Linked DNA regions of Homo sapiens. The protein of the gene in region 2 purifies or fractionates together with the protein of the main gene of each other region. This does not show direct contact. Each region holds a gene or a part of one and is shown on either strand. Other genes may lie near its edges.

Region 1 (3,652 bases), on a different chromosome or scaffold from region 2:
ACTGGGGTTTTTCAAAAGCCCCCAAATGATTCTAATGTGCAGGTGAGCATTTGACACTGTTCTGGACAGAATTCACTGGCACTACTACCATCACTTTGAACATATGTTCAAAATATGGGTGATCAAGCCCCATTCCAGACCTGTGGAATCAGAATCCCCAGACCAGGGGCTTGGGCACTGTTAAAGAAAAAAAATATGGCCCAGGCGCAGTGCCTCACGCCTGTAATCCTAGCACTTTGGGAAGCCAAGGTGGGCAATCACTGGAGGTCAGGAGTTCAAGACCAGCCTGACTGACATGGTGAAACCTCACCTCTACTAAAAGTACAAAAAATTAGCCAGATGTGGTGGTGCACGCCTCTAATCCCACTACACAGGAGGCTGAGGCAGGAGAATTGCTTCAACTCAGGAGGCAGAGGTTGCAATGAGCTGAGACTGTGCCACTGCGCTCCAGCCTGGGCAGCAGAGTGAAACTCTGTCTCAAAAAAAAAAAAAAGAAAATTACTAAGAGGAAACATCAAGGGTAAAGAGATTCTGGCTAGACTGAGCTAACAGGATTCCTTTTTTTTTTTGAGACGGAGTTTCGCTCTTGTTGCCCAGGTTGGAGTGCAATGGCATGATCTCAGCTCACTGCAACCTCTGCCTTCCGGGTTCAAGTGATTCTCCTGCCTCAGCCTCCCGAATAGCTGGGATTACAGGCATGAGCCACGAAGCCCAGCTAATTTTGTATTTTTAGTAGAGATGGGGTTTCTCCATGTTGGTCAGGCTGGTCTCGAACTCCCGACCTCAGGTGATCTGCCCGCCTTGGCCTCCCAAAGTGCTGGGATTACAGGCATGAGCCACTGTGCCCGGCCCCTAACAGGATTCTTGCTGAATACAGGCCAGAGTGATCAGACATCACTGGGGCGGCGGGGGCAGGGTGTTGAGGAACCCAATCAGATATCCACGATTATCAGATCGACCAGATATCAAGGGTAGGGGGTTCTAGGTAAATGGCCTTAGCAGGGTTCTTTTGCTAAAACCGGATTTTACAAGCACACAGATGGGCCTACGGGGTGGTTCAGAAGCCTAGTTAAAGTTTGGCCAAGCAAAGAATCTTTGTCAGTACCGACATTTTAATAAGGTCCCAAGGTCATTCTAATGAGCAGCCAAACTCCTTTCTTTTCTTTTTTTTTTTTTGAAACCGAGTCTCACTCCATTGCCCAGGCTGGAGTGCAGTGGCATGGATCTTGGCTCACTGCAACCTCCGCCTCCCAGGTTCAAGTGATTTCCGGATAATTTTTGTGCTTTTAGTAGAGACGGGGTTTCACCATGTTGGCCAGGCTGGTTTCGAACTCCTGACCTCAAGTGAACTGCTCACCACGGCCTCCCAAAGTGCTAGGATTACAGGCGTGAGCCACCGCACCCGGCCTGCCAAACCCCTTTCATCCAAACCCTGATGTGGCTCTCTGGCATGTAGGCTGCCTGATTTTGAGTTAAACACAGAATGAAAAATAGTAAAGGTGACAATTGGCGCACTCCGTGTCTCATTCTTGAGCGCTCCCTGATGGCTTGAGCTTGGGGCAGCCACTTCACCAGCTCAGGCCTGAGTCACAGGCTGGGCTGCCTGTTGCAGGGGATGTGGGCACAGCATGTGATCCTCTGTGGGATGGAGAAACGTTAAAGTTTCCCTCCGCAAACCTCTGCTCTCTGCATGTCCTCTTCCGGAATCGTGGTGCCAAAATATGCCTTCCACTATTTTGTAGGTTGGGAAAGGAAAAGGAAAGTCATAATTCACACAGCATTTCACATCCATTATCACTGCCCTTGACCTGTCCCTCTTTGTTTCCTACTCAGACTTAATACCTTCTGCTCTGTCATCTGCCTTCCCCCTACCCCTGACTTCCCTGGCCCCTGCGAAATATTGCACTTCCTGATCCTGCTGCCCCAGCCCCCAAGAATCTCCTAATGGTGCCAGCTTGCATTTTTACCCTCCAATTCCCCAAGCCCTTACCCTGTGCCACTGGGGCTCATCTTACACAAACTCTGTCCAAATGGATGCACAGCATGAATTGTATTATGTACGAAGTGCATGCTGGCTCTGTGATCTCTGCATTTTGAGCCAAAAAAAGAAATCCTCTAGTGATGGGAACCTATGAAAGCGACAGTGAGTGGAGCCGTAGCTGTTGCATTTTCTGAATTTTTTAAAAAGATAATATCTTTTTAAAAAATACTTGCGTTTAGCATTTTTTCCCTTGAATGACTTTTGTCCAGAAAAAGTGTTCATCATTCTGGCATTTGAGGGAAGCTGGGCATACAGAATTGATAGCTGATGCCTGGGAGTGGGTGAAATTTCTCAGGGAGGGAGTTTAGAATTAGAGCAGCCATTAAATATAATGTTAGGTGAAGGGTTTTTGTTTGTTTGTTGTATTTTAATAGATGCCTTTTTAACAGGTTAAGGAAATTTCTTTCTATTCCTAGTTTGTGGGTAAAAAAAAAATTTTTTTTTTTTTTTTGAGAGGGGGTTTTACTCTGTCATCCAGGTTGCAGTTCAGTGGCATGATCTTGGCTTACTGCAGCCTCTATCTCCTGGGCTCAAGCGATACTCACTCCTCAGCCTCCTGAGTAGCTGGGATCTGGAATTACAGGCTTGCACTACCACATTTGGCTGATTTTTATTTATTTTATTTTATTTTATTTTTTTGAGACAGAGTCTTGCTCTGTCACCCAGGCTGGAGTGCAGTGGCACAATCTCAGCTCACTGCAACCTCTGCCTCCTGGGTTCAAGCAATTCTCCTGCCTCAGCCTCCCAAGTAGCTGGGATTACAGACGCATGCCACCATGCCCAGCTAATTTTTGTATTTTAGTAGAGACAGGGTTTCACCATGTTGGCCAGGCTGGTCTCGAACTCCTGACCTCGTGATCCACCCACCTCGGCCTCCCAAAGTGCTGGAATTACAGGTGTGAGCCACTGCACCTGGCCTTGGCTGATTTTTAAAATTTTTGTAGGGTTGTGGTCTCCTTATATTGCCCAGGCTTGAAAAAATTTTAAACTAGGAATGAATGTAGAATTTTGCTAAATGCTGTTTCTGCATCTATTGAGGTGATTACACATACATGTTTGTTAATAGGGTGTATAGCATTGATTTTCAAATTTTGGCCTGTTTTTTTTTTTTTTGCGTTGTGAGCGGCTTTATTTATTTATTTTAAATTTATAATTGACAGATAATAATTGCACATACTTAGCAGGAGCAGTGTGATGTTTCATTGTACATATGCAATGTATGTGTATATATTGTATAATGATCAAATCAAGGTAATTAGCATATCCATCACTTTAAACATTTATCATTTCTTTGTGATGATAACATTCAAATCCTCTCTTCTGGCTATCTTGAAATATACACTGCATTATTATTAGCTATCATCACCCTGATTTTCAGATATTAAACCAACCTTGCATTCCTGGGATAAACCTCATTTGGTCATCATGGTTTATTTTTTATATATTATTTGATTTCATTTGCTAAAATTTTGTTAATTTTTTTTTTTTTTTTTTTTTTTTGAGATGGAGTCTCACTCTGTCACCCAGGCTGGAGTACAATGGCATGGGCTTAGCTCACTGCAGCCTCTGCCTCTTGGGTTCAAGCAATTTTCCCGCCTCAGCCTCCTGAGT
Region 2 (3,652 bases):
ATGCTATATCTCCCCTGAGCTGTGTGAGGGCAAGCCCTACAACCAGAAGAGTGACATCTGGGCCCTGGGCTGTGTCCTCTACGAGCTGGCCAGCCTCAAGAGGGCTTTCGAGGCTGCGGTGAGTGTATGCACCCTCCAGGGGACAACTGAGAAATCTACTGCCTCGCCCAGCAGCCCTTGGCTCAAGCCACCTCAGGTTTCTCCTCTAGCTGAGTCATGTCTCTCCCTTATCAGATTACCCCAGGGGAGGGCTATGGGTGTCCCTCAGACTATGGATTTCTGAGAGTAGGTCTTGCCTCCCATTAGACGGAGGGCTCCTGAGGGCAGGGCTGTGGCTTTCCCAGAAGACCCTCCCAAGAGCAAGACTTGAGTTTTCCCAGCATGCTGGGGTTTCTGAGGATATAGCTGCAGCTCCCCTATCAGACTAGGGATCACTGAAAGCCAGGTTGGACTCCCCTGTCAGTCTGGGAGTCTCCTCATCAGACTGAAGTCTCCTGAGGGCAAAGCTGTTATTGTTTATTTATTTATTTTTTTTATTATACTTTAAGTTTTAGGGCACATGTACACAACGTGCAGGTTTGATACGTATGTATACATGTGCGATGTTGGTGTGCTGCACCCATTAACTCATCATTTAACATTAGGTATATCTCCTAATGCTATCCCTTCCCCCTCCCCCCACCCCACAACAGGCCCCGGTGTGTGATGTTCCCCTTCCTGTGTCCATGTGTTCTCATTGTTCAATTCCCACCTATGAGTGAGAACATGCGGTGTTTGGTTTTTTGTCCTTGCGATAGTTTGCTGAGAATGATGGTTTCCAGCTCCATCCATGTCCTACAAAGGACATGAACTCATCATTTTTTACGGCTGCATAGTTTTCCATGGTGTGTATGTGCCACGTTTTCTTAATCCATCTATCATTGTTGGACATTTAGGTTGGTTCCAAGTCTTTGCTATTGTGAATAGTGCCACAATAAACATACGTGTGCATGTGTCTTTATAGCAGCATGATTTATAATCCTTTGGGTATACACCCAGTAATGGGATGGCTGGGTCAAATGGTATTTCTAGTTCTAGATCCCTGAGGAATCGCCACACTGACTTCCACAATGGTTGAACTAGTTTACAGTCCCACCAACAGTGTAAAAGTGTTCCTATTTCTCCACATCCTCTCCAGCACTTGTTGTTTCCTGACTTTTTAAAGATCACCATTCTAACTGGTGTGAGATGGTATCTCATTGTGGTTTTGATTTGCATTTCTTGATGGCCAGTGATGATGAGCATTTTTTCATGTGTCTTTTGGCTGCATAAATGTCTTCTTTTGAGAAGTGTCTGTTCATATCCTTCGCCCACTTGTTGATGGGGTTGTTTTTTTCTTGTAAATTTGTTTGAGTTCTTTGTAGATTCTGGATATTAGCCCTTTGTCAGATGAGTAGATTGCAAAAATCTTCTCCCATTCTGTAGGTTGCCTGTTCACTCTGATGGTAGTTTCTTTTGCTGTGCAGAAGCTCTTTAGTTTAATTAGATCCCATTTGTCAATTTTGGCTTTTGTTGCCATTGCTTTTGGTGTTTTAGACATGAAGTCCTTGCCCATGCCTATGTCCTGAATGGTATTGCCTAGGTATTCTTCTAGGGGTTTGATGGTTTTAGGTCTAACATGTAAGTCTTTAGTCCATCTTGAATTAATTTTTGTATAAGGTGTAAGGAAGGGATCCAGTTTCAGCTTTCTACATATGGCTAGCCAGTTTTCCCAGCACCATTTATTAAATAGGGAATCCTTTCCCCATTTCTTGTTTTTCTCAGGTTTGTCAAAGATCAGATAGTTGTAGATGTGTGGCATTATTTCTGAGGGCTCTGTTCTGTTCCATTGGTCTATATCTCTGTTTTGGTACCAGTACCATGCTGTTTTGGTTACTGTAGCCTTGTAGTATAGTTTGAAGTCAGGTAGCATGATGCCTCCAGGCAAAGCTGTTATTATCCCAGGAGACCAGGGGCTGGAGCTGGGGGGTGCTGCCCTCACTTCCCCAAATTCTCAACCTGGTGCCTTCACAGAACTTGCCAGCACTGGTGCTGAAGATCATGAGTGGCACCTTTGCACCTATCTCTGACCGGTACAGCCCTGAGCTTCGCCAGCTGGTCCTGAGTCTACTCAGCCTGGAGCCTGCCCAGCGGCCACCACTCAGCCACATCATGGCACAGCCCCTCTGCATCCGTGCCCTCCTCAACCTCCACACCGACGTGGGCAGTGTCCGCATGCGGAGGCCTGTGCAGGGACAGCGAGCGGTCCTGGGCGGCAGGGTGTGGGCACCCAGTGGGAGCACAGGAGGTCTGAGGCAGAGGGAAACCTGGGGCAAGTCCTCCCTTCCTGCATGTAGGAATGTCAGGAGGGTCTTTGTCCTTAGGCCCCCATCTGTCCTGCAGGGCAGAGAAGTCCGTGGCCCCCAGCAACACAGGGAGCAGGACCACCAGTGTCCGCTGCAGAGGTAAGTGGGAAGAGGCCGCCAGTCCCCATGGATGCCACACCATTCCCATCAGTTTAATAGTCCCCATGCACTGTACCTGCAGGTATCCCCCGGGGACCTGTGAGGCCAGCCATCCCACCACCACTGTCGTCAGTGTATGCCTGGGGTGGTGGGCTGGGCACCCCCCTGCGGCTGCCAATGCTCAACACAGAGGTGGTCCAGGTGGCAGCTGGGCGCACGCAGAAAGCCGGCGTCACGCGCTCTGGGCGTCTCATCCTGTGGGAGGTGAGCAGGCCAGGGGGTGGCCTGGATGGGTGGAGGTGGAGGTCCACAGCAGGGTTGGGGTGCTCAGGCGCTGCCCATCCCCCTGCCCCTGCAGGCCCCACCCCTAGGTGCAGGCGGAGGCAGTCTCCTTCCTGGGGCAGTGGAGCAGCCACAGCCCCAGTTCATCTCGCGTTTCCTGGAGGGCCAGTCGGGTGTGACCATCAAGCACGTGGCCTGTGGGGACTTCTTCACTGCCTGCCTGACTGGTGAGTTGTCGGGCCTACCTTGTGGGACCTGCTCTGAGGCCCCACAGAGCACCTTCTCTCTTCTCTTGCAAAACACGCACTTAATGAATGCTTCTGTCTACTAGTTATCGAGTTATTGCTTCTGTCTAGTAACTATTGAGGAGATTTCCTTATACAACCTCCTTTACCCTACGGACAGGCCTGGCAAGGCAGTTATTATATTATCCTCATTTGACAAGTGGGGACGCTAAGGCTCAGAGAGGGTGTCACTTGTCCAAAGTCACATATGTTTGAAGGGACTCATATCCTTTTCTCTCTTCCTATCCCATCCTTCCAGCCCTGGTCCCCAACTTTATTTTGCTGCTGCAACCCACTGGAGGACCGGGCTATCTGGAAAGACTGTTTAACTTCTTTCCCTTCTCCTTCCTCACTGCCCTTCTCCCCAGACAGAGGCATCATCATGACATTCGGCAGCGGCAGCAATGGGTGCCTAGGCCATGGCAGCCTCACTGACATCAGCCAGGTGGGTGTCACATATACCTTGGGAAGGGGAAGTCGGGGGATGGCGGGGAGCCCACATCTGTGAGTTGACACCAGATTGGGGGCAGGGGAGTTCCCAGCAACCACAGGTTCCTCTAGCTTCCCAGCTGCACCTGCTCTGGGCCACCTACATCGGGGAAA
Region 3 (3,652 bases), on a different chromosome or scaffold from region 2:
TAAATTATTTACACTCAAAATTTCAAGCACTGTCTGTTATCTTAGCTATGGCTCAGGATGCCTTTGGGAGACAAAGTGTTAAAACATAAAATAAGTGATTATGATTATGGTCTGGAAAAAAATCAGTTCCTCAACTCCTCTATTCTGGGGCTTTCTAGAAGTAAAGAGAATTGGGGAAAACGATCAGATACTCCTGCAGTTTTTCACCATAGTACATGAGAACGTTCAGGATCCTGGTTATCTTTTCTTCTATCTAAACTATTTCCCTCCTACTGAGGTTTAATCTATCTCCCTTGTTTTAGTCTCAGCAACAGTAGCTGGTTATAAATTATCATTTTTGAGGTGTGGAACTAATTCATTCATTAACCTCTTCTCTAGGATACCTACACGTCTATCTTTTTGTCATATTTTTCCAATTTTCTAAGGTCATCAGTTGTTACTGTAGCACTCTCAAGTCTCTAACAATTCTCTCACCCACCTTAGATCCAGTGTGTGTCGCCTCAGTCTCAGATTACAATGCCCTGTGCTCACTAAAGTTAGCTCACTGTAGATTTCTGGAGATTGGCTAACCCAACAAATGATCTGTTGAAATCTTCTGCTCATTCTTATGTGGCTTCCTATAACCAAATACATGTCTTCTGATATTTTTATAGCTTAATGCTCTAAATGAAAACGTGCAGAAATTGGCCAAGAAAATAAAGACTCAAACCTATCCATTTTGCAATCATTAAAAGTTTTGGTGGACATGGATGGACATGAGTGCAGTTCACAGATTAACTATGGTTTGTTTCAAGATGCATGTGTTCTTAAGTAATGCAAAACAGTCATGGAAATTTCAATCATTTTATTTTGGTGCCAGAATTTTAAAGTTTATTTTATCCCCATGAATTATGCAAGAATGAAGAATCTCACTGTGATTCTAAAGAATCTGGATACTCCCTTTTATAGTACCATCAATGATAAGGGACCTGGCTTAAACTAGCTGCCTGCCAAAACTTCCCTCTGCAATATAAAAGTATCAATAACTCCCTGAGATATCACCACAACATCCTCTAGATGTCACCTTGAGAACATTCCAGGATGGAAGATGACTGCTTTGCACTACACAGACAACTTGAAATAGAAATATTTACAACTCTGCAAGCTTGGATCAATGGGCTGATTAAAAAATGTGGTTTTTTTTTTGCCAATTTCCTCAAAGGTTAAGCACTGCTTAAATTAAGTTTAATTCATAAAATGATCTAATTACTCTTTCTGGGAGATTTTCTTTAGGGCTTCTCCCATCAATAGAAACAAAAATTTTCGTCTAAGAAGTATTTCTGATAGACCCTGATTTCTATCTCTTTTTTTTTCTAAATTGAGACAGAGTTTCACTCTTGTCTCCCAGGCAGGAATGCAGCGGCACAATCTCAGATCACTGCATCCTCCTGGGTTCAAGCGATTCTCCTGCCTCAGCCTGTAGCTGCGATTACAGGCCCGCCATTATGCCCAGCCAATTTTTGTATTTTTAGTAGAGACAGAGTTTGGCCATGTTGGCCAGGCTGGTCTTGAACTCCTGACCTCAGGTGATCCACCCGCCTCGGTCTCCCAAAGTGCTGGGATTACAGGCATAAGCCACCGTACCCGGCCATATTTCTCTTAATACATCTTTTTCCCCAAGATTCTCCCAAAACATTTTCCAGTGTCTAAGGCTGCTCATCTCATCACCTGAAAGATCTGAGAGAGAAGACTGCAACAAAGTTTAAAAGCAGAAATTATTTATTCCTGGAACATTAAGAGCATTTAATTATGGATGATTACCCAATCAATTGTTGTTCTTTAATACGCCAGATCTATAGCAGGCCAATGACTGATTCATTTGGTTATGCCAGTCATTCAAACCAAACAAGTTGTCAGGTAATTCATTAAGGATTTCAAATACCTGAGCACATTAAATCACTCTGAAGACTGGGGAGGAAACAGAGAAAGAATTTTAAAAGTGACTTCAGGAAGACCTGGATTATCTCAGGTGTGATTTCCCTTAATACAGACAGGCTTGGCCTGGGGGTTGGATTTTCAGAAATAACAACAACAACAACAACAACAAACTAGGAAAATTTGCCATTTTCTTGTTAGGAAAAAAGTAGTTTGCACTGTAGAGAAGGTTTGCAGAGCCAGACTCATGGGATTTTTAAGGAGCTCTTTTCCAGCAACTAAAACTTACACAAAAATAGGAGAGAGGCTCCTGGAAATAAAGAAAACGGAGTTATACCAATACATGGAGAGCAGGAATTAACCAACTCACAACACCTCTCATGACTCTCTGAGGTATATTTCTATTGAAGAGCACTGCTAGGCACTCTCTCATGACTACCAAGCAACTTCCACAACTATTCTGATGCAGCCAGCTGCGGGGGAGGCAAAGAACAAAACTTGTGGTGGAGCACTACAAGAGTTCTTTTAAAATAACCTTCATTCTAATGCCACAGGGAAAGGCTTTTAAATGCAAAAACAGCTTCTGATATTCTTGTTATAAGAAAAAGAGATATTTATTAACCTCATAATAAGATCGCATGCTACAAAAACACCTTCTTTGAGGCCAGATGCCAACTTTTTTCAAAGTATACACAAAGGTAATTTTAAAGTAGGAGAAAGATCTTACAACTGCAACATTCCCAAATTATCTCATTCAGGAAATATGAGCAATTACATAGGCCTTGATAGAGAAAAATTACATGTTGAGCAAAATTCTGTAATACTAAAAACTATGCTCAATATTTAAAAACATGTATGAATTAAAGATGTACTCTGATACCTTCTCAAATATTGCTAGGTGAAAGCATTAATAGCAGCAATACTATATTTTCCTAATTTAAACGTAACAGTTTTCCTCTGGAATAATATAATTTTAAAATAAAGTTACATTTTATGAGAAATGTACAAAGAATCACATATAGGTATTTCATAATGTGACTTTGTACATAAAGGTGATAATACTGAGTCTCAGAAATATGTCAGGTCTTTTTTACTTATATTGTAATTTTTTAAATTAACAACAATAACCATGAGTTACCTACATTTTCATCTGATCTCTCTTACCCAATAAGCACTTACAAATATGCAGTTATATACAATTATTAATTATTGATGATGTACAAGAAACTAAAGAGAACTGATCCCTGACCAATCAAGAATAGGAACAAGTCATTTTCATGGCAAAGTTATGTATCATTATTATTTTAACCTGAACTGTCAGTCATCATTTTGCTCTCAAGATGATCCAAATTACAGAATGGGACTAAACAAAAATTTTACAGTAAATTTTTTGTTTTAAAATGGTTTACCAGAAAAGATATCAGGAAGAAATGAACACAGGTGACTCCTAGAACTAATCTTATATTCACACTCTACTCATCATCCTGACAGACAGCTCTGTCTCTTGCCCTTAAGGTTGGGGCACCCAAAGATAAATGGCCATTTCTAAACCAGGAAAAGGGTGAAGAGCTGCCACTTGGGTGTTTACAGTGAGCCTCTGTCTGTACCTAATATATTGACTTACTACTCCTCTGAGAAGTTAAAAGCAGTCACTCTCATCTTACAGATAAAAGAACTGAAACGGCAAGAGTGGAAGCCTCTTTGCATAGCCCACATTAGCTCAGCACTCAGTACTCAG

The links.
Region 1: the proteins of NEK8 (region 2) and CAPG purify together in Homo sapiens (affinity purification with mass spectrometry; one large-scale study listed by BioGRID and IntAct). This does not show direct contact.
Region 3: the proteins of NEK8 (region 2) and SLC25A13 purify together in Homo sapiens (affinity purification with mass spectrometry; one large-scale study listed by BioGRID and IntAct). This does not show direct contact.

What each region holds. Positions count from the first base shown.
Region 1 is NC_000002.12:85,403,776-85,407,427, reverse strand, and holds part of CAPG (macrophage-capping protein), read left to right. Parts: intron 1-3,652. UniProt on the Homo sapiens protein: Calcium-sensitive protein which reversibly blocks the barbed ends of actin filaments but does not sever preformed actin filaments. May play an important role in macrophage function.
Region 2 is NC_000017.11:28,735,254-28,738,905, forward strand, and holds part of NEK8 (serine/threonine-protein kinase Nek8), read left to right. Parts: coding exon 1-118; intron 119-2,052; coding exon 2,053-2,261; intron 2,262-2,421; coding exon 2,422-2,483; intron 2,484-2,565; coding exon 2,566-2,747; intron 2,748-2,841; coding exon 2,842-2,992; intron 2,993-3,417; coding exon 3,418-3,494; intron 3,495-3,652. UniProt on the Homo sapiens protein: Required for renal tubular integrity. May regulate local cytoskeletal structure in kidney tubule epithelial cells. May regulate ciliary biogenesis through targeting of proteins to the cilia.
Region 3 is NC_000007.14:96,179,000-96,182,651, forward strand, and holds part of SLC25A13 (electrogenic aspartate/glutamate antiporter SLC25A13, mitochondrial), read right to left. Parts: intron 1-3,652. UniProt on the Homo sapiens protein: Mitochondrial electrogenic aspartate/glutamate antiporter that favors efflux of aspartate and entry of glutamate and proton within the mitochondria as part of the malate-aspartate shuttle.